Linked DNA regions of Homo sapiens. The protein of the gene in region 1 interacts with the protein of each later gene in a pairwise test. Each region holds a gene or a part of one and is shown in the gene's direction. Other genes may lie near its edges.

Evidence for each region.
Region 2: the proteins of TSTD2 (region 1) and DCC interact in a two-hybrid assay, tested with the Homo sapiens proteins (one large-scale study listed by BioGRID and IntAct).
Region 3: the proteins of TSTD2 (region 1) and FLCN interact in a two-hybrid assay, tested with the Homo sapiens proteins (one large-scale study listed by BioGRID and IntAct).
Region 4: the proteins of TSTD2 (region 1) and SSX2IP interact in binary tests that used the Homo sapiens proteins (3 or more experiments, as listed by UniProt).
Region 5: the proteins of TSTD2 (region 1) and MUTYH interact in a two-hybrid assay, tested with the Homo sapiens proteins (one large-scale study listed by BioGRID and IntAct).

Annotation. Positions count from the first base shown.
Region 1 is NC_000009.12:97,600,749-97,606,972, reverse strand, and holds part of TSTD2 (thiosulfate sulfurtransferase/rhodanese-like domain-containing protein 2), read left to right. Parts: intron 1-711; coding exon 712-830; intron 831-1,331; coding exon 1,332-1,490; intron 1,491-2,107; coding exon 2,108-2,246; intron 2,247-4,205; coding exon 4,206-4,504; 3' UTR 4,505-6,224.
Region 2 is NC_000018.10:52,747,708-52,753,931, forward strand, and holds part of DCC (netrin receptor DCC), read left to right. Parts: intron 1-4,346; coding exon 4,347-4,667; intron 4,668-6,224. UniProt on the Homo sapiens protein: Receptor for netrin required for axon guidance. Mediates axon attraction of neuronal growth cones in the developing nervous system upon ligand binding. Its association with UNC5 proteins may trigger signaling for axon repulsion.
Region 3 is NC_000017.11:17,222,884-17,227,417, reverse strand, and holds part of FLCN (folliculin), read left to right. Parts: intron 1-1,095; coding exon 1,096-1,242; intron 1,243-2,906; coding exon of another isoform or gene 2,907-2,960; intron 2,961-3,274; coding exon 3,275-3,496; intron 3,497-4,534. UniProt on the Homo sapiens protein: Multi-functional protein, involved in both the cellular response to amino acid availability and in the regulation of glycolysis.
Region 4 is NC_000001.11:84,658,428-84,664,651, reverse strand, and holds part of SSX2IP (afadin- and alpha-actinin-binding protein), read left to right. Parts: intron 1-99; coding exon 100-235; intron 236-2,121; coding exon 2,122-2,197; intron 2,198-2,276; coding exon 2,277-2,454; intron 2,455-6,183; coding exon 6,184-6,224. UniProt on the Homo sapiens protein: Belongs to an adhesion system, which plays a role in the organization of homotypic, interneuronal and heterotypic cell-cell adherens junctions (AJs).
Region 5 is NC_000001.11:45,327,247-45,333,470, reverse strand, and holds the end of MUTYH (adenine DNA glycosylase), read left to right. Parts: coding exon 1-58; intron 59-146; coding exon 147-186; intron 187-300; coding exon 301-374; intron 375-511; coding exon 512-553; intron 554-636; coding exon 637-708; intron 709-783; coding exon 784-897; intron 898-982; coding exon 983-1,080; intron 1,081-1,160; coding exon 1,161-1,305; intron 1,306-1,384; coding exon 1,385-1,448; intron 1,449-1,621; coding exon 1,622-1,810; intron 1,811-1,914; coding exon 1,915-2,051; intron 2,052-2,136; coding exon 2,137-2,289; intron 2,290-2,913; coding exon 2,914-2,955; intron 2,956-3,402; coding exon of another isoform or gene 3,403-3,405; exon of another isoform or gene 3,406-3,582; intron 3,583-4,033; coding exon 4,034-4,165; 3' UTR 4,166-4,229; downstream 4,230-6,224. Other genes in the region: HPDL (4-hydroxyphenylpyruvate dioxygenase-like protein), read right to left, coding at 5,207-6,224. UniProt on the Homo sapiens protein: Involved in oxidative DNA damage repair. Initiates repair of A*oxoG to C*G by removing the inappropriately paired adenine base from the DNA backbone. Possesses both adenine and 2-OH-A DNA glycosylase activities.

The DNA of each region.
Region 1 (6,224 bases):
GGCTTCCCCTTGTATTTTAATACTTACCCATCTTCTAGCTTTCCTGTCTTTTTCTCTCCTTTACTTTCTTTCTCATATGTCGTTTCTGTTGTCCACCCCTCTTGCCCTTTTCTCTTTTACTCATGCACACACACTTAGACACATTCTTCTTGCTCCTTTGCATTAAAAATGTATCTATTCCAACTTTATTCCATAACTTTTTGCTCACACCTGCCTGTGGGTTCTTAGCCTTCAACGTGGGTTCGACCTTAATATAGAACAGTTTACAAAGCCTGTAGTCAGCCACGTACTTGCCCAGCTCCTCCATGTACAGTGACAATAGAGCAGTGGCCATTTCCTGACCTACCAGTGACCATACAATGGACCAGCAAATTCACATGGCAATTTAGATCCCAGTTGCCTGGTTTTTATCACTAGGGTTAGGCCAAGTATGAGGATGCAAAATTCTTTGACTAGTTATTTCTAAACTACCAGGTCTCCATTGCCCTCATTTTAGGAGGAGGGAGATTGAGGATACCTGGAATTACTGGAATTACTAAGTTATTTCATCATGATCATCAAGTAGTGTTCTTTTCAGACAGTTGTAATTATGAAGAGAAGAGATTTGGGTGGAAAGAAACAAAGCAACACGTAAGTCAGGCTGGGTGAGTCATGATTGGGTTTTGGTTTTTTTGTCTTTGTTTTAATATAATTTTTTTGGTTTGGTTTTAGGAATCCATTTATCCCCAGGTGAATTTCATAAAGAAGTAGAAAAGTTTTTATCTCAGGCAAATCAAGAACAAAGTGATACTATCCTTCTTGATTGCAGAAACTTCTATGAAAGCAAAATAGTAAGTAAAAGCCAGAACTGAGTTCTCTGAATTGGTAGATCTCCCCATTCCCACAGTGTGGTATATTTCCCAAGGGGACCTTGTGTGTGCCCACCTGTGGCCACATGGATCTCCTCCCAGTACTGGCAGCTTCAGAGAAAACCCAAGTCCTAAAACTCAGAAATCTGGTGAGAGAGTCTAAGAAAATATGAATTAAAGGCATCCAGGCACATAATATACTTTGTGACTCCCATGAGCCTGCCTTTGACATGTATCAAGGATCTTGCAAAGTTGCCTTTGGGCAGCCTCTCCAGTTCCCCTGAGGACCCTGGGAAGGTGACCCACAGCCCACAGCCTCGGTTTTAAGTTGAGATCTTGAAGTTGAAAGGTCAGAGTGGGGATGAGATTAGCAACTGGCAGGGGCTTCTTTGCTAAGTAGGGTTTGTTGGGTACAAAAAGAACCTTTGTTCCTACCAGGTATGTTTTTCTGATAATTTTCCTTTTGTTGCTCCTATGTTACAGGGACGATTCCAAGGCTGCTTAGCCCCAGACATCAGGAAATTCAGTTACTTCCCTAGCTACGTTGACAAAAATCTAGAACTTTTCAGAGAGAAGAGAGTGCTGATGTACTGTACCGGGGGCATCCGCTGTGAGCGGGGTTCAGCCTACCTCAAAGCCAAGGTGAGCCACCACCCCGGGGCACTGTGGGCATGGCAGTGAAGGAGGCAGCTCCACCAGCAGCTTACGTGGAGCTGTCCGCTGCCCCCAGTACTCCCCACCCCCAGGCAGCCAAAGCATGCCTTCACCCCTCGTATGGCTCCAGCATGGAGTTCGTAAGTACAAAATCTGAGGGTCTTTAATCTCAAGATATGAAAAACACTTAACAGTCATAGAGACTCATCAGATGTAAAAGGGAGAGATTAGTTAACATCTCCCTTTTCCTGATCCTTTTGCTTGATCCTGAGAAGAGCAAATTCAGTAACATTACATGTCCCAACAGGTGTCTTCCTATATTTAGGGGGCAGCAAAAATAGTTGGGCTTCCCAGGATCTAGAGGGTGAAGGCCCTGCCTGCTGTCATCACCCATCCCCCTAGGAGGCAAGATCTGGCCAGTTGGTGCCTTGACCCCTTGGTCAGCAATTCCTCAGTGTCCCGCAGTGGGAGCCAGGAGCCCCTGACTGATAGCAGCGGCCATGAGTCCTCTACGTCAGCACTCCTCGCCATGCGCCGTTCTTCCGTGAGCATCTTAACAGGTCTCTGCTGGCTCTTCAGATTTCCTGTTGTTTTTCCACACCTAGGGAGTGTGCAAGGAGGTGTTCCAGCTCAAGGGTGGCATCCACAAGTACCTGGAAGAGTTTCCTGATGGCTTTTACAAAGGGAAGTTGTTTGTTTTTGATGAACGCTATGCTCTGTCCTACAACAGTGATGTGGTGTCAGGTAGGTCAGCACAGGCTCAGAGCCCAAACTGAAATGAAGCACATTGTCAGTTCACTATTCTAGAAAAATGACACAGGGAAGACAGGCCAGTGCTCATTACTGAGCACTGAATAAGCAGGGAAAATAAGTACATTGTGCCACCATTTTCCCAGCTGTGGAGCTGAGAGAACCCTAGCCCAGGAGTCAGGAGGCCTGGGTTGGGATCCTGGCTTCACCATTGCTAGCTGGACAAGCCCATTAACATGGGGATCATCTCACCTGCCCTGCCTGCCTGTCTACCTGCCAAGAGCTGTACTACTGGGCTAATTCAGGGCTCTTAACCTGGAATTGGTACATAGATTTCAGGGATTCTGTGAATTTGGATGGAAAAATAATTGTATCTTTGTTTTCAATAACACCTCACTAAAATGAAGCATTTCCTTTAGTTATGAATGTAGGCAACAAAGTACCAGTTGTATTAATGTACCTGTGACTTTGTCTTCAGTAGGATTCACAATACTTTCATATCATGTTCTAGTTGCCTCAGATATCTCAAAATAGTATTTATACTCATCACTGCTTCAAAATGAAAATAGTTATTAGGCCCACCACTAAGAGTTGATATATAATGTGTTAATAAATGGCACGTCTTATTATATATTACAGATTTTGAAAAAGACTTTGATATTTTGTATTTCTGTATAGTTGGTTTCCTTTGTAATCTTACATATTTTATGCATTTAAAAATATTTTTCTAGGTCAGGCACAGAGGCTCATGCCTGTAATCCCATCACTTTTGGAGGCCAAGGTAGGAGGATCACTTGAGCCCTGGAGTTTGAGACCAGTCTGGGCAACATAGCTCACTATGTCTCTACAAAAACTTTTTTAAATTAGCTGAGCATGGTGGTGTGTACCAGATACTCAGGAGGCTGAGGCAGGAGGATTGCTTGAGCCCGGGAGGTTGAGGTTGCAGTGAGTTTAAATCATGCCACTGTACTCCAGCCTGGGTGACACAGCAAGACCCTGTCTCAAAAAAGTTTTTCTAGGCCAGGATCTATAGTCTTCACCAGACTACCAAGTAAATCCGTAGCACACATGATTTTAGGAACTCATAGCTCTCTGTGGACCCAGGTGGCATGCACATTTGAGTAAGATTTGCGTTTGATTGTCCTCTCCTACTTTCTTGGTCTTATTTTCATTTTAGTGGTTTTGAGTTGTCTCTTATTGATCACTACTTCGATCTGTTTTGGAGCTAGATGGAGTATAAATTCTAAACAAGTAGAAAGAGTAGATTTGATTTTACAGAGGTTATATTGGCTGGACTCGATGGGTACCTGCGTGTGAGTATGAAGGAGAGAGGGAAGGCTCAGAGGTAGCTTAGATAAGCAAGGTAAGGAAAAGTGAGGAAGAATGATGTTATCAATAGTAACAGGAGGTCATCAGGGAAAAACAGGTGAAGAAGATGGTGTGAGTTTTAGGAATCAGATGGTCAAGTGCCCTAGCAACAGCAGGAGAGACACAGGCCTCGGGGAGAGGGGTGTGGACTGCGCATGTTCACTGTAGGTGGGTTATCGCCTGTATTTAGGTGTGTTGTCCCCCCTGGAAAAGGGAACAATCAAAGAGGAAAAGACCACTTAACAAGGGGGTTGGGAGGTAGTTGGCCAGCTTTGGAATAGCTGGTGAGAGAGAGAAACTTTCATTACCATCTAGTTACCACCTGTTCTCTAGATGGGAAAAAGAAAAAAAAAGTCAGTAAATACTGGAAGCAGACAGTTACCAGAAGTCACCCCCACAAAAAAATAAGCTGGGTGGTGGGGGTGGTGGTTAGTTGTTGTTGCTAGAAGACAGAAGACTTACTATTTGGAAACCTTCCCCGGGTTCCACAGGATCTACGAGATTCTAGTCAGCAAAGGGAGCAATGCCTGTCCACGTGTGTGTGAATGTATGTGTTTATAATGATGGCTTTTCCTTCCTCCCCAGAGTGTTCATACTGTGGAGCCCGCTGGGACCAGTATAAACTCTGCTCTACTCCCCAGTGCCGCCAGCTCGTTTTGACCTGCCCTGCCTGTCAAGGACAAGGATTCACAGCCTGTTGTGTCACATGTCAAGACAAGGGGAGCAGGAAAGTTTCAGGCCCTATGCAAGACAGCTTTAAAGAGGAATGCGAGTGCACAGCCCGACGGCCACGCATACCTAGGGAACTCTTGCAGCATGTGCGACAGCCTGTGAGCCCAGAGCCAGGGCCTGATGCTGATGAGGATGGGCCAGTGCTTATGTGAGCAGCACCTTTGGCATTTTCCCAGGCCCTCGGTAAAAGTAGGTTTGGGGTGACTATACAGAGAAAGCATGGCAAGACTGCAGAAACAGAGAAATCGGGAACTTCAGTTCTGGCCGCTGCCACCGTGGCAGCCGTCTACACTTCACAGCGGGAGGGGAGGAGTCACGTTGTCTACCACTTACCTGAGACATTCTGATTTGGATGATGCTAGAGCACAGAAAATAGGTGAGCTGCATGGGATCCCAAAGCTGCTGAGGGATAGAGCCTGAGCCTGGTGGCCACAGCATATGCCCTTTCTGTTCCATGCAGCTGGGGCTGTTAGTAGTCATTGCCCTTGTCAGCAGACCTTCTACCCTGGTGGCAAACACATGAAAGCTGTGGCCCTGGGAGTGGCCTCCTAAAACAAGCCACTTAGGTCATCTGCCATCTACCCTTAACCTCTGTCTCTCGCCTGAGGGGAATCTGCAAGCTGTGCATTGGGCTTACCTCCTGCTTTTGTAGAAATAACCATCCTTTGGTATACATGGAGGATAGTTCCAGAACGCCTGAGTATACAAAAACCCAATGCATACTCAAGTCCCACAGTGGGCCCTACAGAACCCACGTATGTGATAAATCAGCCCTCCATGTACGCAGGTTTCGCCCCCTGCCAATACTGTATTTTCAACCTGTATGGTTGAAAAAAATCCATATATAAGTGCAGCCATGCAGTTCAAACCCATATTGTTCAAGGGTCAACTGTATAGTTTATTGAACAGCCACACCCATTCCTTTACACATGATCTATGGCAGAGTTGAATAGTTGCAACAGACACTATGTGGCCTGCAAAATCGGAAATTTTTACTGTCTGGCCTTTTACAGAAAAGTTTGCCAGCCCCTGATCTAGACCAGCAGCTCATCTGATAGAGGCAGAGGTGGCCTTAAAGATGTGGCCTTCTTCATTTTCTGTTGGTTTGGTTTCGTTTCTATGAGAGATTTCCTCTGATAGCTCTGCTTTCCCCAGCACTTACTCTCTGAGCTTTTAAATGTTCTCTCTGGGAGCTTCATATAAGCTCGGTGACATTTGAGCCACAGTTTTTAGATCAGCACCTGGAATACATGACACATTCTTACTGAGGTCATCCAGCACTGCCATGGTGGCTGCCCAGTCTTCTGGCCAGTGTGCCAGGCACATGTCCCTGTCACACAGGTTCCAAGAAACACATACGCAGCCATGCATAGACCAACAGATTTAATATTATATTGCAGTTTTCAGCGATGCAGAATGCAGCTGCAATTGTGTTTTAAGGAGAAGCCAAATGGGGATGGTTGTCCCTGCAACATGGTGCCACTCCTGGGCCATGTGCAGCCTCAGTGGACACTCTTCCATAGCGCTGAGGCCCTGGCCCCGCCTCCAGTTACCCTGTACTGCCCACTGCCTTACAGTTCAGTGCGCAGGCCTTCACCTTTTCATCACCAGCCTCTCTGCTCAGTGCTCTGGAGTTCTTGACCTTGTCCTTTATCATGAGATTTGCTGAAATCACTAATGAAAATAACTCCCAAAAGCAACAAACAAAAATATTAGTTTAACTGGCACTGTGGTATATTAAAAGGCACAAGGGCATTGTGGCTTAACACTTTTGCTGGATCCCAAGAGACGCACATGATGTTAAAAAGAGATCTGGCAGCAGTACTAATACTACATTTCAGTGTAATCATCTTGGGGTGGTTTGGCCAGGAT
Region 2 (6,224 bases), on another chromosome or scaffold:
AAGTCATTTTATAAAATTATTTTATATTAAGAAATTATATACTGGTGGGCAAAATCTCTCCAAATGGAACCAGTACACTAAGAGAAAGGGTTGAGGGGGTTTATCTAAATTGATGTCAATGTAATGTATTCGTGGGACATTTCTTAGTCCTGTGTGCAATACAAGGAAGTTAAAGGTAGCCTTGCCTAATGACACGGTATTTTTCAGTGCCGCTTCGCCAGCCGGAAATCTTCCACAACACGCAGCGCTCCTGCCTGGGCCTCACTGGGTTCCGAGCTGGCCGCTGAGCTGGTTCTGCCCACTCAGTCTGACAGGCTGCGGTCGGCTCGTGCTACGACCCCTGATCCCACGCCCACCATAGGCGTGCCAGGCATGGAGCGGTGAGGGGTGTGTGAGTGAGTGAGTGCGGAATCCAGCCACCACCGCACAGAGCCAGGTGCGCCAGCTGCTGCAGTGCGGCAGGCAGCTTTAGGTGCCGGCACAGGCGCTGGTTCCCTGTGAGGCGGCAGCTGGACCAGGCATACTGCAAGCAAATTCTGCCTTCGATGCTGGTGTCTGGACTGGGGGAACACGGTGACACCCAAAAAACTTAGAGACGCCAACAACCACAGAGCCCCAAAAGGGTGTTACAGCATGTCACCGTTTGTTTGTTCCCGTAGCCCAGCAAACAAGGGTGTGTCAGAGCTCTGGCTCCGGGAGTCCCAAGGTCTGCACCTCCAGAAGGGTTGCAGCTCTTCTCTCCTTCCTGCCATATGCAGCACAGTGAACGGGGCAAGGGGTGGGCAGGAGTGTGTTTCGGCTCCTTTGTGTTACAGCTCATTCAGTCCTGCTGCACTACTCTGGCCCACAGCTCTTGGGCTGGCCCGGCCCCACTGCAGCTTCTTGTCGTCTTGGGTGGCCACTCGGGCAGCAGTGGAGGGCTGGAGGGCTACAGTGTTACAGCTCCTTTTGCACCTGATGTTCAATGGGTCCCAGGTTCTTGTCCTGCATCCAAGAAGAATGAGGTTGCTTGGATAACTGGAGAGTGAGCAAGGTGGAGAAAAGTTTTACTGAGTGACAGAACATCTCTGGGCGGAGAGGCGATCTGCAGTGGGTAGTCCCCAGGTGTGGCTGAGTCTGGAGTTTTTATAGGCTCAGAATGTGGGAGGTGCAGCCTGTAGGTAGCCATGGAAAAGGCAATATTTGATTGGTTAAAAAGCATTATTCAGGCTGGACCCATTGGCTCATGCCTGTAATCTCAGCACTTCGGGAGGCTGAGGCAGGTGGAACAACTGAGGTCAGGAGTTTGAGACCAGCCTGGCCAAATATGGCCAACATGGCCATCTCTACTAAAAATACAAAAATTAGCCAGGTGTGGTGGCGCATGCCTGTAATCCCAGTTACTGGGGAAGCTGAGGCAGGAGAGTCACCTGAGGCGGAGGTTGCAGTGAGCCAAGATCGCATCACTGCACTCCAGCCTGGGAGACAGAGCCAGACTCCATCGCCCAAAAAAAAGAAAAAAAAAAGAATTATTCAGAAAGAACCAATCAGGAAAGAACAGGCAAACAGGAACAGAAGTTCTCACTCTGGTCACAGACTCCATTCAGAACCAGCAGCCCAGTTTTCAGGCTTTAGGCTTTTTTCGGCTTGAAGGTTGGGTTTCACTGGGGACCCACCCCTGTCTGCCTGGGAATTTGTCTGCCTCCTGCCACTGTCACTAACATGAGCTGAAACTTAGAAAAGGAGACCAATAGAATCATATCTACTATTTCTCAATTAACTTGATTCACCAGGATCCATCTTTTCTATAAAACTAATCACTAATGCAAGTTACTTAAAGCAGTGAGGTGCCTATATCCCAAAGCCATATATTCAAAATATAATTGTTATAAAGAGTACAAAAAGCTCAAATTGCCATTGAACTGCAAGGGTAATTGTGTTAAAGTTGATCTATGTACTCACAGCACTGAAAACTGTCATAATCTCCTTGTTTCAGACTAAGTGGATTATTTATGTGTGATAATGGGCACATATGCTCATTAACATGCTGTCATAAACAGCTGTGTTAAATGTATTATGTGTTCTGTGACATAAATAAGGTGCTTAACATGAGGTTGTGTTTAAAATATAGGCCCCAGGAAGAACAAAAAAGCAATACATGCTTTCTAATATAGTTGCCTGCTCTTGAATTTCAAATTTATTTCTTCTTTATTAATGCTACTTGTATGGAAATTGTGGGTATTACTCTAGCGAAATATCTTGGCATTCAAGGACATTAGAACTTCTTTCTGCTGTCTCATCCTTAGTGTTTCTCAAGCCAGGTTTGCTAGCTTGTGTTTCTTTTCTGGTAGAGGAAGAGATCACGTAGACATGGGAAAGGTATTTTCAGCAAAATCAGCCTTAAGTGATTCAGCAAGCTTAGAGCAGGGTTCATTTGACAGATGCTCTCAATTCAATCTTGTTCTAAAAGCCTCCAAACTAGATGTTGAACTTAGAGATCATCTAGTTCAACTTCTTAATTTTTGCAGATGAAGGAACTGAGTTTCTGAGGGCTTAAAAGACCTTTCTGAGTCATGAATTTTGAAGTGATAAAACCAAGACCTAAGGCTAGATATCCAGACAGCCAATTCAATGTACTTCCCACTAGAAGAACAGGATGTACTATAATTGGGTTGACTACACCAAAAGGATCTGTGGGGAGAAGGAGCTTATTTGAAAATAAAGACACCAGGCTGCTGTCATCTGGGATCTTTATCAATATCCATCTATAATAGAGTTATGTGCTCACCATTATTTTACAATTTATATTAATTCAAGCAAAGTTCCAGATGCTTTCTGAGTGAGTGGCCAAGGTGAAAGGAATGAATATATGACAGTGAGCGACACAAGACATCATTGGGCAGAATAACAGACTTCAAACGTAAGTTTTAGAAAAATTGAGTATGCAGGAACGAAGCAAATAAAACCAGGGAGAAACCGTAAGAAGCTGTTCTGCTTTCTCTTCACTGTAAAATGGGGTGTACAAAGATAGAAATAGTTCTGTCCATCAGGACCAGTATGAGTTAACCCCTTATGAGAATATGGATTACCTGCAATTTAGATGCCTGCCTTTTAAATGACAGAAGATTGGAATGATTTTACAAAGTACAACGAAAAGTGTTCCCATTACAGAAAAATGAAGGAAGCTAATGAAGTCAAGGTTGCTATCGTGGAAAAAAAAAATGAAGACTAAAACATAATTTAGGTGGTATTTTTTAAGAAATGAAATGCCATTTCAAACAAATAAAGGGCTCTTAAAGAAAATGTCCATCTCTTCTGCATTTTCACACAAGGTGTTTCAGGAGAAAATGGGATTAAACATCAGCAAGAAAATTCAGTTAGACTCTTAAAATGATTAAATATTGAAAACAAGATACCGAGGGACATTGTAGAATCTCTAGCCCCAAAGATTGTTCAAAATGAAATTGAAAGTAATTTGACTTGAATGATTTAAGTATACACCTGTCTGAGCAAATGGTGGAGCCAATGACCTCCTGAAACCTTGTCAAGGTCTTTGACTCAACATGTGAGTATTCTGTCAAATGCTATACTGCCAGCTTCAAAAACAATATACTTTAACTGATTATACTTGCTTCCTCCCCTCAAGATTCTTAAATGAATTTCTATTACCCTTGGTTGATTCTTTATGTTCATTTACGTTTATGAAACAAATTCAACTGTAATATTTATTTAGATTTCCAAGCCCATGAGAAACATTTGGATGAAAATTAAGACCCTTCAGGGATTTGTGATTTTAGGTAGTAGCTTTATTGACTTGCTTCTGCCAGTGGGATTTACCTATTTTAAAACCCACCTGAGCTTTGTCCTAAATAACTTTGCCCATGCTGTTCAGAGTTGACTTTTATTCTTATAGAACCCTGTATCAGATTGGATTTTTTAAAAATTTCAATGGATGCCATAATCAGAATGAAGAGATAGAAATAGTCTCCCCAAAAGTCTTAGCTACCACACTAATAACTATTGCTACTTTAAAATATCTAATTTTATTTGGAAAATATTAGTTTTTTCTGTCTAAATTTTCATGTACTGACTGATATGTGGTAATAAGCATGCCAGGATTTATATGAATTTGTAATTTCTCATAATATTAACTTTTGGAGCCAATTGTTTTCTTAATTATGATTACCTCGACTGGGTACTTTTTTGCTTATTTAACATAATATCCTTGATTTTAGTTTTTATTTATTCTTGGACATTGTTCAAAGCCCTCAGCTTTTGTGAAAAGCTTTGTAAAGAAAAGACAGGGAATCTAAGCCTGAGATTTATTTGAATACATGAACATATTTCCCTGTGCTCTCTTGTTCCAGGTTTTCAAATTAAAGCTTTCACAGCACTGCGCTTCCTCTCAGAACCTTCTGATGCCGTCACAATGCGGGGAGGAAATGTCCTCCTCGACTGCTCCGCGGAGTCCGACCGAGGAGTTCCAGTGATCAAGTGGAAGAAAGATGGCATTCATCTGGCCTTGGGAATGGATGAAAGGAAGCAGCAACTTTCAAATGGGTCTCTGCTGATACAAAACATACTTCATTCCAGACACCACAAGCCAGATGAGGGACTTTACCAATGTGAGGCATCTTTAGGAGATTCTGGCTCAATTATTAGTCGGACAGCAAAAGTTGCAGTAGCAGGTAGGTGGATTCTTCCTTCTCTTCCTCCTCCTCCTTCCTCTCTTCTTCTTATTCATTTTTGGGGATGAGAAAATAATTTTTGTAGAAATAATGTACATTTTAAAAATCTTTTAAATTTTAAGTTGACAAGTAATTATATATTTTTATGAAGTACAATGTCATGTTTTGATGTATGTATACATCGTGGAGTGATTATATCAAGCTAATTAACATATCTGTCACCACATACTTCTCTCTTTTCTGTGGTGAGAACATTTAAAATCTACTCTTTTAGCAATTTTGATATATACGTTGCTGTGCAATAGATATTAAAAGCTTATTTCTTCTCTCTCACTGAAACCTTGTGCCCTTTGACAAACATCTTTCCATTCCTTACCACGCCCCATCTTCCCAAGCCTCTGGTAACCATTCTGCTCTCTAGTTCTATGAGTCTGACTTTTTTATAATAGATTCTACCTGTAAGTGAGATCATGCAGTATTTTTCTTTCAGTGCCTGGCATGTTTCCCTTAGCATAATATCCTGTAGGTTCATCTATGTTATCACAAATAACAGGATTTACTCTTTTTAAAGGCTGAATAGTATTCCATTGTGTGTGTGTATGTATATCATATATACACACACACACATATATATATATATCTCATATTTTCTTTACCCATTCGTGATTGATTCCACATCTTGGCTGTTGTGAATAATGCTGCAATTAACATGGAGTATAGATATCTCTTATATACCCTCATTTCAATTCCTTTGGATATATACCCATAAGTAGGATTGTTGTATCATATGGTAATTCTAATTTTAGTTTTTTGAGAAAGCTACATAACCATTTTTCATAATGGCTATCTAATTTACATTTTCACCAACAACGCACATTTTTAAGAAAAAGGAAAGATGTAAAAAGATTCATGTTTATTCTGTCATGGATTTGACTGACCTTTCTCCTTAAATTATCTTAGAAAACAGTCATAGGACCTCAACTGGCTGCGTAAAGTTATGAGATTATTTTTTTAAACAAAACTGTTTCAAGTTGACTTACTACTTATATCTAAGGGAGGACTTCTCATTAACAGAAAAATATTAGAAAATATAATTTGCTAATTTTACTTTACAGCTTCATTAAATGCTAAACTTTTGCAGAGTCCATTTTTTTGTTGTGGGGCCTTAAGAAGAGTAAATTTTATTTTAATTATAGTGGCATGGCCTACAACATATACATGTCAAGTAAGAAATAAAAATTCCTTCTAGTGCTTCCAAATTTCTTAACGCTTGGTAACATGTTGGCTCAACAGCTGAGTAATAAGATGAACAGTTTTTGTTTTCACCTGGATACACTGAAGTCATGTAGACTCTGAAAAAATGGTACTGACCATTCTGGAACCCATGATATTGCTATTTCTGCCCCACTCTTCTGGTTAGAAGGCAGCTCATAATTATTTCTGTTGGCCCCTGAAATGTTAGACCTGCAAAGTGAAGAATCAGTTTTTTTACTTGTTTCTATAAAGATTTGACCAAAACCTGTCTTTTTTTTTAACTTTTATATTGACCATAAAGCA
Region 3 (4,534 bases), on another chromosome or scaffold:
TAACCCACTCTGCCTCCCTGCCGTGGCCTTCATGTTTGTATTCACACACTCCAGCCTGTCCTGGAGGCGGGTCCCCAAAGTCCCGTGCTCCCAGTGGAGTTTCCTGCTCCCAGGACCCCCAGTGTTCTCGGTGGGTCACTCCATCAGCTCTTGAACTCTCGGGAATTAGTGTGAGTTTTCCCCAGTGGGCCACTTGTTTTTGTGGAGGACCTGGGTCAGGGCCCAAAATCAGGGGTGGGTGTTGGACCTGCCACTGCAGTGCAAACGGGAACCCAAGCTTGTTCTTTTGGTTCTGCTGCAGAAGCAGAGGACGTGTAAGAGCTGCATCCATTGCTGGAATTGCCTGTAAGGAATGGGGGATGGGGAGCACCTCAGACCTGGGAAGGAGGGCACCGCCAGGCTGCTGGGGCATCCTTGAGCTGGTTTTGGGGTTGCCCATGGAGGAATCCTGCGACACTGTGGGGAGAGTCTTGCTGACGCACTGCCGCACAGTCCTGGGGTAGGAGCAGCTCCAGGGCGCACAGCCTCAGCATCGGAGTGGCTGTGGCTGCAGCGGGGCAGCGGGGCAGCAGTGGTGAGCTGCCACACCAACATCCTGGAGCTTGGTGCTCGCCCTATTTATTGGGCCTCTCGCCTGTGGCTGAAGCCCCTTCCAGGTGTTAGTTCAGAACCAATGATGGAGGCTGGGGGCAGTGGGTAGTGTTACCACCACAGAGCCCCTCACCCTCGGGCCAGCTACTTCTCACTTCAGCCTCAGTTTTGTCTTCTGTAGAATGGGGCTTCTCACTGACATTATCTCAGAGGGTGGCACTTGGGATTGAATGAGATGGAGCATGCAGGGCCCTTTTCATGTTACCTACTTCGTAAGTGCTCAGCAAATACCTGTTAGGAACAACCTCTGGCAATCTCTGCGATCTCTGTGTTCTGTTTTCCTCTTTAGGAAACATTTAAATCTTCAGATAAGTATAAATCTGGAAGCCAATTATTTTTTTACAAAAATAGCTTGAGTTTTCCGAGCTCAGATTTGCATAAACCTAAGAGAGTTTGTCGCCCTGCTTCCCAACTAACAGATTTACTTTTCCTTTTCATGGACAGGGCTGCCGGTCACTTGCTGCAGGGCACCCGGGATATATCAGCCATGATAAAGAGACCTCCATTAAATACGTCAGCCACCAGCACCCCAGCCACCCCCAGCTCTTCAGCATTGTCCGCCAGGCCTGTGTCCGGAGCCTGAGCTGTGAGGTGAGCCTTGTGGCCACAGAGCCTGTCTCTGTGGGAGCCCACATGCTCCCAGGTGCTCTGGGTGGGCTCGGAGCCAGCATTGCACAGGGAGGCAGGCACTGGTCCTCTCTCAGGGCGGACCCGCAGATCAGCACAGCACAGGGTACAGGACGCCTCCCTTGTCCAGAATTGCGGGAGGAGTCATGTTGGACTTGCTGAGCATTTTCTGATTGAGTGCTAGCTTTTGCACTTTAAGCACCGAACTTTTATTATTTGTCCTTTCTTTATTATTATTGTTTTCTTTTTTCCTTCTTTTGTGTCAGGGTCTCGCTCTGTCGTCCAGACTGGAGTGCAGTGGTGCCGTCATGGTTCACTGCAACCTCAAACTCCTGGGCTCAAGCGATCCTCCCGCCTTAGCCTCCCAGGTGGCTGGGACCACTGGTGTGTGCCACCATGCTCAACTGGGGTTTGTTTTTTGTTGTTGTTAAGACAGAGTCTCACTCGGTTGCCCAGGCTGGAGTGCAGTGGTGCAATCTCGGCTTACTGCAACCTCCACCCTGGGTTTAAGTGATTCTTCTGTCTCAGCTATCCTGAGTAGCTGGGACAACAGGCGTGTGCCACCATGCCCGGCTAATTTTTTGTATTTTTAGTAGAGAAGAGATTTCACCATGTTGGCCGAGCTGGTCTTGAACTCCTGACCTTGTGATTTGCCCGCCTCGGCCTCCCGAAGTGCTGGGATTACAGGTGGGAGCCACTGTGCCCCACCTTTTTAAAATTTTTTTGTAGAGATGAGGTCTCAGTATGTTGCCCAGGTTGGTCTCGAACTCAAGCAATCCTCTGGCTCATCCTCCCAAAGCACTAGGATTACAGGTGTGAGCCGCCATGCCCAGCCATGTGTGTCTATTCTTGATGGATGTATTCCTAAGATAGGAAGCATTTCTAGGTTAGGTGGTTCATTGCATCAACATCACCTTTTTTTATTATCTCAGTCCTCATTCCAAGTCTCAGTGATGATCCCGTGCTGCTCTCAGCCTGCTGAGGTGTGGATGATTTCTTCCTAAACTACGTCGCTGCTGCTGTTGCTCTTGACTCTGAGCTCAGGTCTTTGTTACAAAGAATTCGTCGTTCAGTTACTAAACTTCCTTGTCATTGGTGTCCACCCAGTTCGACACACCAAGCTCCCTTACTGTTCTCATTCAGTGTGGCTGTGTGCCTGCCCTCAACTGTCCTCTCCTTTTAATTTCCTACCGCTGGTCTGCTAGCAGGCAGCTCGGCATGTCTGTTAGAATTGTGTGTTAAGGAAGAGTAAGTATGTAATGAGGAGGGACTGAAATCCTCTTATAAGAATAAAGTACGTGGGGCTGGGCATGGTGGCCCACTCCTGTAATCCCAGCCCTTTGGGAGGCCAAGGCCGGCAGATCACCTGAGGTCAGGAGTTCGAGACCAGCCTGGCCAACATGGTGAAACCCCCTCTCTAAAAAAAATACAAAAAAATTAGCCAGGCGTGGTGGCACACTCTTACAATCCCAGCTACTCAGGAGGCTGAGGCAGGAGAATTGCTTGAACCCAGGAGACGGAGGTTGCAGTGGGCCAGGATCACACCACTGCATTCCAGCCTGGGTGACAAGAGCGAGACTCCATCTCAAATAAAGAAAGAAAGAAAGAATAAAATGTGCGGATTTCAGTGCAGGGAGAGTGCAGTGGCTGCTCTGACCTGCTGGTTCTTCTGCATGCTCCAGGTGAGTAAGCTGGTACATTTGAGTCTGGGAGAGGTGTGACATATGCATGGGAGTTATTTATGGCTCAAGGTGGAAGAAAAGCAATAAGCCTTGTTACCGGCCCTTGCAGTCCACAATGACAAGTGTTGTTGGAAGCTTGATCACAGGAGCAGAAGAGTACAGTCTTCGGCTCTCATGGCCCCCACTGTGCCACTCTCCCCGTTATTAACGCTGGCTGATTTGTGCCAGCTGACTCTGAAAAGTCTGAAGAAGAGGCTTTGATTTGGTGTCACTAAGCGAGGAAAGGGCTGTCTGAGTCGCCGGTGTCCCTCCAGGTCTGCCCTGGCCGTGAAGGCCCCATCTTCTTCGGAGATGAGCAGCACGGCTTTGTGTTCAGCCACACCTTCTTCATCAAGGACAGCCTGGCCAGGGGCTTCCAGCGCTGGTACAGCATCATCACCATCATGATGGACCGGATCTACCTCATCAACTCCTGGCCCTTCCTGCTGGGGAAGGTCCGGGGAATCATCGATGAGCTCCAGGGCAAGGCGCTCAAGGTGAATTCAGAGATGAGGTGCCGGGGCGGCAGGGGGCCCTGCACTGCATGAGCCGCTCTGTGCTGAGGTTGAGGCCTGGAGACCGCGTGGCGTCTTCCCCTCTGCTTACAGCCAGTGCACTGTGTGAATTGTAGTCTCTTGGCTTCAGAGCTGGAGGTCGTGAGGAGCCTCCCAGGCCATCCCGCCTGCTTTGCTGGTCTCTCTTGTGCCCGTTGTCCTGGTTCTCGCTCAGCTCTGGTTTCTTTGCTGCAGTCAGACCCCTGGTGTCTTTGTTTCCTCTGGCCTTCATCTCAGGGATGTCTGTTAATCCCATTGAGTTGCACCACCGAATGTAGGCCTCCAGCTGTGGAGATGCAGCTCAGGCCAGGCCAGGCCAGGTCGTGCTCTGGTAACAGCCTCGGATCTCAGCACCTTCAAGCCATAGGGCCTGTTTCTTACTCATGGTGTGTGCATTGCAGGAGAGTGGGGCTCTGCTTGCTGTGGTCGTCCTGGCAGGCAGAGCGGCAGCCATATGAAAATGCTTCCCCTAGGCTGGGCGCAGTGGCTCACGCCTGTAATCCCAGCACTTTGGGAGGCCAAGGCGGGCAGATCACCTGAGGTCGGGAGTTTGAGACCAGCTTGACCAACATGGAGAAACCCCGTCTCTTCCAGAAATACAAAATTAGCTGGGCATGGTGGTGCATGCCTGTAATCCCAGCTACTTGGGAGGCTGAGGCAGGAGAAACGCTTGAACCCATGAGGCAGAGGTTGTAGTGAGCCGAGATCACACCATTGCACTCCAGCCTGGGCGACAGAGTGAGACTCCATCTCAAAAAAAAAAAGAAAGGAAAAAATGTTGCTCCTTCTGCCCTCCAGAAGCACAGATGGTGCTGAGGGCCTTGTTTGTCTCAGCTCATTGACCAGAGCCAGTCACGTGTGCCTTAGCCAAGTAGTGCACCCAGAAGGGGAGGTGGAGACAGGTGGGGAGCAGCGCAGATGGCCACTCACGAGAATCCCCCTGGGTGCCTTGGGTCACTCATTAGGAAGGGGACAGGAGAA
Region 4 (6,224 bases), on another chromosome or scaffold:
TAGGATTTTAAAACCTATATGGGGAGATGAATTTTAGGATTTTTCTCTTTCAAATTTGTGAATCGTTACTGGGCTTATAATAGCAAATGCCTTTTTCAGGTGCAAAAATTACAAAATATCATTGCAAGTCGAGCTACTCAGTATAATCATGATATGAAGAGAAAAGAGCGTGAATATAATAAACTGAAGGAACGTCTACATCAACTTGTTATGAACAAGAAAGATAAGAAAATAGGTAAACAGCTGGCAAAGATCAGCTAAGAGAATAAATAAGCTAATACTATGCTTAGAAATAATTGTAAAAGGATTGAACACAGTAACTCACGAAATGTTATTTTCATGCTTTATACAATTGATTTTCAGTGGTGTTTGTTTATATAAAAAATGTAGACAACTGGTTAGTGGAAAGTAAGTCATTCTGCCTTGCTTTATTTAATTGCATGTATTTTTTAACATGACCAGTGTAGAATTAATCCATAGAGGAAAACTAAGCCAGAGGACATTCTAATTTTCCATAGCAAAGAACTGATAATATTAAAAATCAGTGTCAGTTTCTGAGTATCAAAAGAAGTATTTTAGAGTAAACCTCATAAAATTTTTCATCAGACCAAATCGTTCATGTCAGTTTGAGTTCCTTTAAATAAGTTTAGCTGTACATTTTTGGAGCAGCTAGTCAAAAGGATGGACTATAAAAGTTAGGCGTGTGTGTGTCTAAGGTATACTTTTTTCCTAATAGTAGTCTTTTTCAAAACTTTAAGCCATTTCATCCAAATATGTGGATAATTTCAAGTAGATAGTGTAAATTAAAAAGCAAAGAAACACGAAAGTAGAGCTTTACAATACAGTTTTGCTGGCCTGGTATAAATACGAGGCACAAGAAGTGTGTGTATTTATTTATTGAAGAGTGGTTTCCTAGTGACTATAGGTAGTCCTCTAACATACATTATACCGTGACACCCCTAAACTGTCTTACCTTAGATTTGAAAAACAGGCGATGAGCGTACGTTTCAGGCTGTCATGTGGTAGACTCTGCCTGCTGTCAGCAAGCAGTTTAGTGTTGACTACATCACTGTCATTCTGCAGCAGAGCTGTTGGAGGTATCTGAATACTTTATTTTTTAAATTGTTGAAAAATAGAAATGAAGATTCAGTAATGCGCCGTTAAGATTGGAAATCTTTAGGTATCCTGAGTTAATCTTACTCATTTGGAGAATCATTGGTTTTTAAGTTTAGTTAGCCTCATATTCATTCATGAAGGAAAAAAATTAAAAAGCAGGATGAAATGCTGAAAGTATAAAGTGTAACACAGAGAAGTTTATTAAGGATTTAGTTCTGGAAACAGAGCTCTTCCATTATAGCGGTCTGGCTGTTTCCTGGTCCAATCGGAAGTGACAGTTTCATAATGATTTTATTAACTCTAAGATTATAATAATTTACTCTTTTTCCTTTTTACGCCAAATGTTTCCATGTCCACCTGCAGCAGAAGATATTACTACTATCAGGGGCTTTGACTCCTTTGATGAAAATGATGATGTTAATGTTAACAGGACATGGCAAACTTTTTCTGTATAGATCCATATAGTAAACATTTTCAGCTTTATGGGATCTACAACTTATTTGTTGCACCTACTTATCTCTGCCATTGTAACAAGAAAAGTAGCCATAGGCAGTATATAAACAAGTAGATGTGGCTGTGTTCCCATAAAGCTTTATTTACAAAATCAGGCAGCCAGCCTGTGGGCCATTATCAGGCAACCCTGATAATGAAATTAATAATGATAAGGTAACATTTATTAAGTACTTACTGTGCGCCAGATACTGTGTTCACTCTACTGTGTTGGGTGCTTTAATAGTTATTTCTTTGTCTTCTCAACAACTCTTTGGTAGATACTTTTGTTATTCCCAGTGTCCAAGAAGAAACAGGCTAAGCAGTTAAATAATGTGCCGAGATCTCATTGCTTACAAGTGGTGGAACTAGAAACTCGAAAATTAGGCTGTTTAAGCCCAAATCCTAACCTATATACCAGGTTCACTTTCACCACTTACGTGTATAGAATGCATTAGAGTTTTAGATGCTTAAGCATGTATGGTAAGAATTAATTTTATGTGTTCATGTTTGTAGCTATGGACATTTTGAATTATGTCGGGAGAGCTGATGGAAAAAGAGGCTCCTGGAGGACTGGTAAAACTGAAGCCAGGTAAAGTCCAGTTTAAATTGATAAATGTAATCAGACTTCCTTCTATCCTGCATTTTCATACTGACAGTTTCTTTCTCAGGAATGAAGATGAAATGTATAAAATTCTCTTGAATGATTATGAATATCGTCAGAAACAAATCCTAATGGAAAATGCAGAACTTAAGAAGGTTCTTCAACAAATGAAAAAGGAAATGATTTCTCTTCTTTCTCCCCAAAAGAAGAAACCTAGAGAAAGAGTAGATGATAGTACAGGAACTGTAAGTGGCTCTTTCCTCTCTAATACAGTCTTCAGATTGCTAATAAGAATAATTAAAATATGTGGTAGGCATTCTCAATGGGGACACTATTGGTATTTTGAATAGGACACTCAACTGCTATGCTACTTTCAATTACTGTGACAACTGAAAAGACTGTTCCTATGTGTTTTCAGACATTTCCTGAAAAATGCTGGAGATGATTTTCCGGGGAATTAATACATGTCAAGCACTGTTAAGAAGTGCTTTATAAGCATTGTCTCATTTTATAATATTCCTCATAACATATGAGATTATTTCATATATTATAATTTGATGATTTAGATACTATAAATATCCCCATTTTATAGATAAGGAAACTAAGGCATAATATTTAGTAGCCCAGTATCACACATGACAGTGCTAGGATTTGAATCCAAGTTTCTCACTCCAGAGCTCACAATCATAACCACTATGTCAAATATCCTTTCAGTTGTTTTAGTATTATGTACTCTACTTTTCACAGAGTGAAACTTCTGTTAACTTTGGGAAACAAATATAAATTTATTGGGTGTTCTTTATGTTCTAGTCTCTGGAAAGGAAAGGCTAAAAAGATTTTGACTTTTTCCCTCAAGAAGCTCTTTTTGGGAAAGACAGACGTGGAGAAGTGATTATTACATGTGTTAGGTGCTGTAATAAGGTGGTACAATGTGCAGAACAGAATAGTTATGGCAATCAAGGCATCACAGAGAAAGTGACATTTTCACTGCTTCTTAGAAAATAAGTATTTTTGAGGTTAAAAAAAAAAACATGGAGAAAGCATTCCAGAGAATGGGAGTAATATATGCAGAGATCTGAAAAAAAAATCACATAATGGTGAAAAGTTCATTTTACTTAATTGCTTTACGTATAAGTTAAAATCGTAGGTTTCAGCAAGTTCACATTAGTGATAAAAATCTGAAAATAATGTTGATGGAAAATGCTAGTTAACAGCAAGATACCAGAACTTGTTTTTTAAACCTGTATTTGAGGATTATTTATTTTGTGGTATCACAAATCAGTCCAGCTGATAAGCCCATCCCAGCACTTACCTTTTTTTCTCCTTAACATTTAAAAAAAAAAATTACCTAAATTTTTTTTTTTTTTTTTTTTTTAAGAGACGGAGTCTTGCTCTGTTGCCAGGCTGGAGCGCAGTGGCACAATCTCGACTCGCTGCAACCTCTGCCTCCCGAGTTCAAGTGATTCCTCTGCCTCAACCTCCTGAGTAGCTGGGACTATAGGCAGCCGCCACCATGCCCGGCTAATTTTTTTTTTTTTTTTTTTTTTGTATTTTAGTAGAGACGGGGTTTTACCATGTTAGCCAGGATGGTCTCAATCTCCTGACCTCGTGATCCGCCTGCCTCAGCCTCCCAAAGTGCTAGGATTACAGGCGTCAGCCACTGCGTCTGGCCTTTTTGAGAGAGAGTTTTGCTCTTGTTGCCCAGGCTGGAGTCCAGTGGCACCATCTCACCTCACTGCAATCTCTGCCTCTCGGGTTCAAGCAATTCTCCTGCCTCAGCCTCCAGAGTAGCTGGGATTACAGGCATGCACCACCACCCACGGCCAATTTTGTATTTTTAGTAGAGACGGGGTTTCTCCATGTTGGTCAGGCTGGTCTCAAATTCCCGAATATCTTTTACATTCTCCATTTTGAGGCCTGCTTGACCTCTTATATGTAGTTAACCTCTTATCTCAAACTCTGTCACTTCTAGTCAGTTCTTAGCATTCACTAATACTTCTTCAAGGTTAGCATAGTGTCCATTACTACTGCAGCATCTTCAGTTTTTGGTCCAACCTTAACGTCTCATCATCAGATTTCAGTTAGCAAAAGTATGTGGTAAGTCAGGGAGATCTTTCTTCAGTGATTAAACCCTCCTCACCCCCATTACTCAGCCAGTGGGTAGTATCCTGTATAATTCTTCATAATTCACATGTTTAAGTGGATGAACAATGACCTCTTAAATATATATTCTAGTTTTAAAAGATCCATTTTTCTAGCTCCCTTTTCTCTTTAATTTTTGTAGGGAAAGATTTTTGAAGCATTATAGCAAGAGAAATAAGATGTAATGTTGGAATGCCTAGGTAGCATCCACATTTCATTTATTATTTGACCTACTTACTTGTAAAACATATACCGAAAATTCAGGTAAAATGAGTTTGTTGTTTTGTTTTTTGGTTTTTTAGAGGCAGGGTCTTGTTGCCCAGGCTGGTCTCGAACTCCTGGGCTTAAACAGTCATCCCACCTTGGCCTCACAAAGTGTTGGGATTACAGACATGAGCCACTGTGCCCAGCCGAATTTTTTATTTTCATTTTGTGGTTAGAGAGTTCTGTTCAATCTGAGAAATGTGCAATAATTATTCATTTTTCTTTCTTTTTTTTTTTTTTGAGATGGAGTCTCACTCTGTCGCCAGGCTAGAGTGCTGTGGTGACATCTCAGCTCACTGCAACCTCTGCCTCCCGGGTTCAAGTGATTCTCCTGCCTCAGCCTCCTGAGTAGCTGGAAGTACAGGCATGCACCACCACGCCCAACTAATTTTTGTATTTTTAGTAGAGACAGGGTTTCACCATGTTGGACAGGATGGTTTCGATCTCTTGACCTCATGATCCACCCACCTCTGCCTCCCAAAGTGCTGGGATTACATACAGGCATGAGCCACCGCGCCCGGCCAATAATTTTTCTAACAGATTGGTAGTATTCTAATAGGCTTTAAAATGTTCAGAAGAGAAGCTGTGCTTCCTTGGAAGAGTTACTGGCAAGTAGCTTTTGAGTATTGGCAGGGGCTAGAATCACCATGAGCCGGATCCTGGGCCATTCCCCTGTCTGCTCCGCCTCAGAGACCCTGACCTCTGCTAGCCCATTGCTGACCTCAACTACTGATAGAGTTCTTCAGACTCAGTTGCTCCCTCATCCTGCTGATCTCCATGTGCGAGCAGTCGAATCAGCCCTTCTTTCTTTTCATCTTTTATCTTTCTTTTTTCCCCAGCAAGATTTTTATTGTTCAAATTAGTGAAGTATATCTCTCTGCCTTCCTGAATATTAATGACAAATTAGAACTACTTTATGTAGATGTGGGTTATTATGACATATATCCCTTTTAGTATTGTTTCCCCATGTTCTTTATCCTGCTTTGATTCTGTGTGATCATATATCAGTAAAGTTTGCTACTTCTTTATGATTTCATGTTTGGCAGAATACAAAGAAAAGTATCTCCCGTTATATAAAAAAGTATATGAGGAAAATAGAATTAACAGTTGCTTTTATTAAATACTTCAGAGATTATTTCACAAGTGCATTTCTTTAAGCAGCCTAGGATTAGAAACAAGTTGATCTAATGTCAAATATCAGTTCTGCCTCTTAGTTGTAATGCTGCTTCTCTAAACCTCGGTTTTCCCACATTGTAATGAGCTGAGGGTTAAATAACGTGAAAACATCCAACACATTAGACAGGTAGTGATATCTCCTTCTCAGACAGCTTCATGACTCTTGTCATTAACTGTATTTGGATTCAAATTCAGGTTTAGAGAGAGCTGAATTTAGGAGTCTCATTTTTTTTCTCAAGACATTTAAATACTGGGCCATATATGCATAAGACACAGCACAGAAATGATTTTGATGTGGCTTCCTCTGGTAATCAAACTGAAGACTACTTGCCTGAGCATCTAAAGCCATTGTAAGGTACTAGCCTTTCCTCTTCATCTCTCTCCGCTTGTAGGTTATTTCCGATGTTGAAGAAGATGCCGGGGAACTAAGCAG
Region 5 (6,224 bases), on another chromosome or scaffold:
AGGGAGCCTGCTAAGCTGGTACGACCAAGAGAAACGGGACCTACCATGGAGAAGACGGGTAGGCAGGCGAGGAGCAGGGACAGTGGGTGGGAGGCAGGCACCCAGCCCCCTCCACCCTAACTCCTCATCTGGGGTTGCATTGACAGGCAGAAGATGAGATGGACCTGGACAGGCGGGCATATGCTGGTCAGTACATCTCCTGAGAGCAGGGCCACTTTGCCTCGAGGCCCTTGGGTCTGGGGGCTGTGGGCCAGGTAGGGGCAGGTCAGCAGTGTCCTCATGCCAACCCCTTTCCCCCAGTGTGGGTCTCAGAGGTCATGCTGCAGCAGACCCAGGTTGCCACTGTGATCAACTACTATACCGGATGGATGCAGGTGACTCCAGGGGAGGAAGGGAAGGGTCATGGGTCAGACCCCAGATGAGAGCCTCTACTTTGGGGTGGGTGTAGAGAAGGCTTCCTCTACCACCTTCACCCTTGACCTTGTCTCTTTCTGCCTGCCTGTGGCTATAGAAGTGGCCTACACTGCAGGACCTGGCCAGTGCTTCCCTGGAGGTGAGAGCCACCCTAGGGTAGGGGAAATAGGAACAATAGAGGGACTGACGGGTGATCTCTTTGACCTCTGATCCTACCCACAGGAGGTGAATCAACTCTGGGCTGGCCTGGGCTACTATTCTCGTGGCCGGCGGCTGCAGGAGGGAGCTCGGAAGGTAAGGGGATGGCAGGAGGGTAGGAACCCAGGAGTCTTGGGTGTCTTATAATCTTGAGTCTTGCACTCCAATCAGGTGGTAGAGGAGCTAGGGGGCCACATGCCACGTACAGCAGAGACCCTGCAGCAGCTCCTGCCTGGCGTGGGGCGCTACACAGCTGGGGCCATTGCCTCTATCGCCTTTGGCCAGGTGATCTCACAGCCCACCCCCACTTTGTGCGTGCCCAGCCTCCTTCCTCCCAGCCCAGGCTAACTCTTTGGCCCCTCTGTGCCAGGCAACCGGTGTGGTGGATGGCAACGTAGCACGGGTGCTGTGCCGTGTCCGAGCCATTGGTGCTGATCCCAGCAGCACCCTTGTTTCCCAGCAGCTCTGGTAGGATGTTGGGGTAACAAGGGTGCTTCAGGGGTGTCTGCAAAGGAGCTCTGCTTCACAGCAGTGTTCCCTTCTTTTAGGGGTCTAGCCCAGCAGCTGGTGGACCCAGCCCGGCCAGGAGATTTCAACCAAGCAGCCATGGAGCTAGGGGCCACAGTGTGTACCCCACAGCGCCCACTGTGCAGCCAGTGCCCTGTGGAGAGCCTGTGCCGGGCACGCCAGAGAGTAAGCCTACTGGGGAAGGGGCAGTGAGAAGTCCTAAGGAGTGACTCTGCCCTATGACACTCAACCCTGTGCCTCTCAGGTGGAGCAGGAACAGCTCTTAGCCTCAGGGAGCCTGTCGGGCAGTCCTGACGTGGAGGAGTGTGGTGAGCACCAAACCTAGCCCCCACCCCAACCCTTCCTGGCCCAGTCAGAAGCCCCATTCCAGTTCTTCCTCTAACCTGAGTAAGATTCTGCAGAACCCGGCCAAAGCCCACTCTCTAGGTTGGCCCCTAAAGCCCTCTTGGCTTGAGTAGGGTTCGGGGATCTCCGTTCCCAGCTCCCAACACTGGACAGTGCCACCTGTGCCTGCCTCCCTCGGAGCCCTGGGACCAGACCCTGGGAGTGGTCAACTTCCCCAGAAAGGCCAGCCGCAAGCCCCCCAGGGAGGAGAGCTCTGCCACCTGTGTTCTGGAACAGCCTGGGGCCCTTGGGGCCCAAATTCTGCTGGTGCAGAGGCCCAACTCAGGTACCTGGATACTGGGCGTGGAGGGCAGTGGCATGAGTAACAAGAGAGAATGGAGGGAATCGGCAGCTGAGGCCTGACCCCTGCCTGGCTGCCCTCCCTCTCAGGTCTGCTGGCAGGACTGTGGGAGTTCCCGTCCGTGACCTGGGAGCCCTCAGAGCAGCTTCAGCGCAAGGCCCTGCTGCAGGAACTACAGCGTTGGGCTGGGCCCCTCCCAGCCACGCACCTCCGGCACCTTGGGGAGGTAAGTGAGCAGCGGAATAGCCAAGGATGTTGGCTTTTGAGGCTATATCCACAGGCCTATTTGAACCCCTTGACCCTTCCTCCAGGTTGTCCACACCTTCTCTCACATCAAGCTGACATATCAAGTATATGGGCTGGCCTTGGAAGGGCAGACCCCAGTGACCACCGTACCACCAGGTGCTCGCTGGCTGACGCAGGAGGAATTTCACACCGCAGCTGTTTCCACCGCCATGAAAAAGGCACTACCTTTGTTGTCTTTGTTGTACTTCCTTGTGTTTCCTACATGTTCTACATGAATATATTACTGTGTAAACAGGAAAAAAAGCATTTTTTTTTGAGACGGAGAATCGCTCTGTTGCCCAGGCTGGAGTGCAATGGCGCTATCTCGGTTGACTGCAACCTCCATCTCCCGGGTTCAAGTGATTCTCCTGCCTCAGCTTCCTGAGTAGCTCGGATTACAGGCGCCCGCCACCATGCCTGGCTAATTTTTGTATTTTTAGTAGAGATGAGGTTTCACCATGCTGGCCAGGCTGGTCTCCAACTCTTGACCTCAAGTGATCCGCCCGCCTCAGCCTCCCAGAATGCTGGGATTACAGGTGTGAGCTACCACACCCAGCCATGATTTTTTGTATTTTTAGAGATGGGGTTTCACCATGTTGGCCAGGCTGGTCTCAAACTCCTGGCCTCAAGTGATCCACCCGACTTGGCCTCCCAAAATGCTGGGATTATAGGCGTGAGCCACCATGCCTGGCCAAAAAAGCATATTTTAAACAAAAGTACTGGGACATGAAGTTAAGGGCAGAACACCGGTTTATCTCTTTTGCAAAAAGTGCCAGCCCTCACCTCCCTGTCTTCTTGTCTAGGTTTTCCGTGTGTATCAGGGCCAACAGCCAGGGACCTGTATGGTAAGTCTCCTAGGCCTCTCCCAACCGTGTCTCCCCAGGCCTGAGTCCATAGGTTTTTAGTCAGTTAACTAACGAATGTCTGGGTGAACATTCTCCACTCCAGGCTTCACTGGAGGGAGGAATAGTTCTTGACCTGGAGACCTTCCATTGTGGGGTGCAGGGTAGAGGGAAAGGAAAAAAATGATGAGGACTCTCCAGTGTCACAGGTGTGTGAAATGCCTGTACTGAGTTTTGTGGGATATGAATTGTGGAGCCATCAGTTCTTTTTTTTTTTTTTTTTTTTTTTTGAGACAGTCTCACTGTCACCCAAGCTAGAGTGCAGTGGCCCGATCTCGGCTCACTGCAATCTCCCACAACTGGATTAAAGCGATTCTCCTGCCTCAGTCTCCCAAGTAGCTGGGATTACAGGTGCCTGCTACCACACCCAACTAATTTTTGTATTTTTAGTAGAGACAGGGTTTCACCATGTTGACTAGGCTGGTCTCGAACTCCTGACCTCAAGTGATCTGCCCATCTTGGCCTCCCAAAGTGCTGGGATTACAGGCGTGAGCCACCACACCCATCCATGGGAGCTATCAGTTCTAATTGGGAGACGGATCAGGAAAGGCTGTTTGGAGGAAGCAGCTGGTAATCTTCGTCCTAGAAATGAATCCTTTTCTTCAGGTTTGGGAGGGGAATCAACCGTAGCGATGTTCTTTCCAGTCCCAAGAGTAGTGTGAGCAAAGGTGGAGCCCAGTGCAGGCTGCAGTGCTCAAGGAGCTGTGAGCAGTTGGTTTAGCTGGAAAGGTCAGCAGGGCCTGCTGGGTCAGTCAGGGTGTGAGCCCTAGGCTGCTGACTCATTTTAGGTGGAGGAGAGAGGAGTCAGATTTGCATTTTTAGGACAATTCGATTCCCTCAGGCAGCCTTTTGGAGGGTTGATTGATGGGGCAGATACTTGAGGCAGGATGAAAGCTCTACAGCATTCCAGGCTAAGCCTAGCTAGATCAGTAGAGTCGGGGAAAGGGAGAGAGGACAAGGAGAGGATTCTCTGCTCCCCCTCCCCCAACTACAAGGCCTCCCTCCTTCCATTTTTTCACAGGGTTCCAAAAGGTCCCAGGTGTCCTCTCCGTGCAGTCGGAAAAAGCCCCGCATGGGCCAGCAAGTCCTGGATAATTTCTTTCGGTCTCACATCTCCACTGATGCACACAGCCTCAACAGTGCAGCCCAGTGACACCTCTGAAAGCCCCCATTCCCTGAGAATCCTGTTGTTAGTAAAGTGCTTATTTTTGTAGTTATTTTATGTTGTATTTTTTTGAGATGGGGGTCTCGCTATGTTGCTCAGACTGGTTTCGAACTCAGGTGATTCTGGCCTCAAGTGATTCTCCCACTTCAGCCTCCTAAAGTGCTTGGATTACAGGCATGAGCCACCACGCCCGCCCTTTTGTAGCTATTTTGGACAGCCTTCCACCCTCTCCCTAGCCCCCTCACCCCTTATATCTGAGGGAGGGACCCAGAAAAGTGGTGACGTTCTGCTTGGTTCTGACTTTCTCTGGCTGAACTCCCAGCCAGCCCCGGGCAGATGGGGTTGGAGTGGGGGTGTTCTGTCCAGACTGATCTGCCCTCCAACCCCCAGGAGAAAGGCAAGGCAGCTACAGGGAGAACCTGCCAGTGGCTGACACACAACACCCTCTGTTTACGTCTCAGGTCAGCTCTAATTGGAGTGGTGGCATCACTCTGGAGTAGGTAGTTGGGCTCAACTCTCACCCAGCCCCTCCCCACCTGAGTGGTCGCTCCCTAGGGGGAGAGGAAGCACAGGAGAAGATTTGTTCTGTTTTAAATTCCTACCTCAAATACGAAATAATTTATTTAGGGTTATGTTACATACGGAGTGAAACAATACAGAAAAGCAAAGGGCTAATAATGACAGGATTTGAGGAGTGGGTGGGAGGAAATAGAATCACAGCGGGACACAGGGAGGACTCGAAAGTATTGGTTATGTTCTATTTCCTAGTGTGTAATTCTTTTATTGTTCTTTGTATCTTACATATTTATTATAGACTGTATATAAGAAATGTTTTAGTTTTAAAAAATCCCACCTCTTTGGAGCCCAATGAGAGACACAGCTTCTGGCAGGCACTGATGAAATGGAAGTCACACCTGCCCCCCGGAGGCAAAGCCTTTCACTAGTTGGGCCTCCTGCAGATGTTCCTCAGTTCTGTGCTGGTCTCCCCAGAGCTGCAGGACAGCTGGCTGCACCCAGCCCTGGGCATCCTTAGGCTTCCTGGCTCCTGGCAGATTGCTCCTGTACGGACTGCCACAGAGCTCTGATGTTGCCCTGACCAAAGCCAGTGGCCCCCTGCCTCTGAATCAGCTCCAGGAAGAAAGTGTCCTCAGTAAAAAGGGACTTGGTGAAGACCTGAAGCAGAAACTTGCCTTTATCACCATCTAGCAGGATCCCCTGTCGAGCAAGCAGATGAGGCTCGTGCCCTGCAGCTCGGATCTGCCTCTCCTTTCCTGGCTGCTGGTAGTATGCCCCAGGGGGAGCCAGGAACTGGCCTCCAGCAGTTGCCACCCCCTCAGTGGCCTCCACAATGTTAGGCGTATACAGCCCCACGTGCTGCAGGCCTGGCCCCTTGTGCCGGGCCAGGAACTGCTCCACCTGGTCCTGTCGTGTCGTCGCCCCCGGAAGGGACTCAGCCAGAACAAGAGTGGGGACAATGCTGCCCGGCTGGGCCTGCAGGGCTGTAAGCCTCAGTCCCCCAAGCCCAAACCCTGCTGTCATTTCGAGGCCCAGCTCGGGATCCTCACCTGGGCTCAGCGGCAAGTGGCAAAAGCCCAGGCAGTCGTGGAACCAGCGCAAAAGTGTGGGGGAGCTGCCGGGGGTGCAGGCCAAGGTCAGGTGGTCCACGCGGCTGACCCACCCGGGGCCAGGCGCAGAGGACACGGGCCTGAAGCCGGGTAGGAAGGGTCCGCGGTAGCCAGCGCGCTCCAGCAAGGTCAGGCTGAGGATGCCGGCAGGCGAGCTGACCACGGCGTAAGTGGCGGCACCCTGCGCGTCCCGCACGCGAACGGGAGGGACAGGCACGCTGCAGCCCAGCGCTGCCAGCTCCCGGGTTGCAGCGCCGGCGTCCGCCACGTCGAAGCACAGGTTTGTGGCGCTGGGCACGGCGTGACGCGGATCCAGGCCGTACAGCGGCTCTCCAGACCCTGCGCCCTCGTTCACCAAAAAGACCGCGTCGCCGCTGCGCAGGGCTAGCTGCCGCCAGCCGTCCACCTCCCGCGAAGCCAGG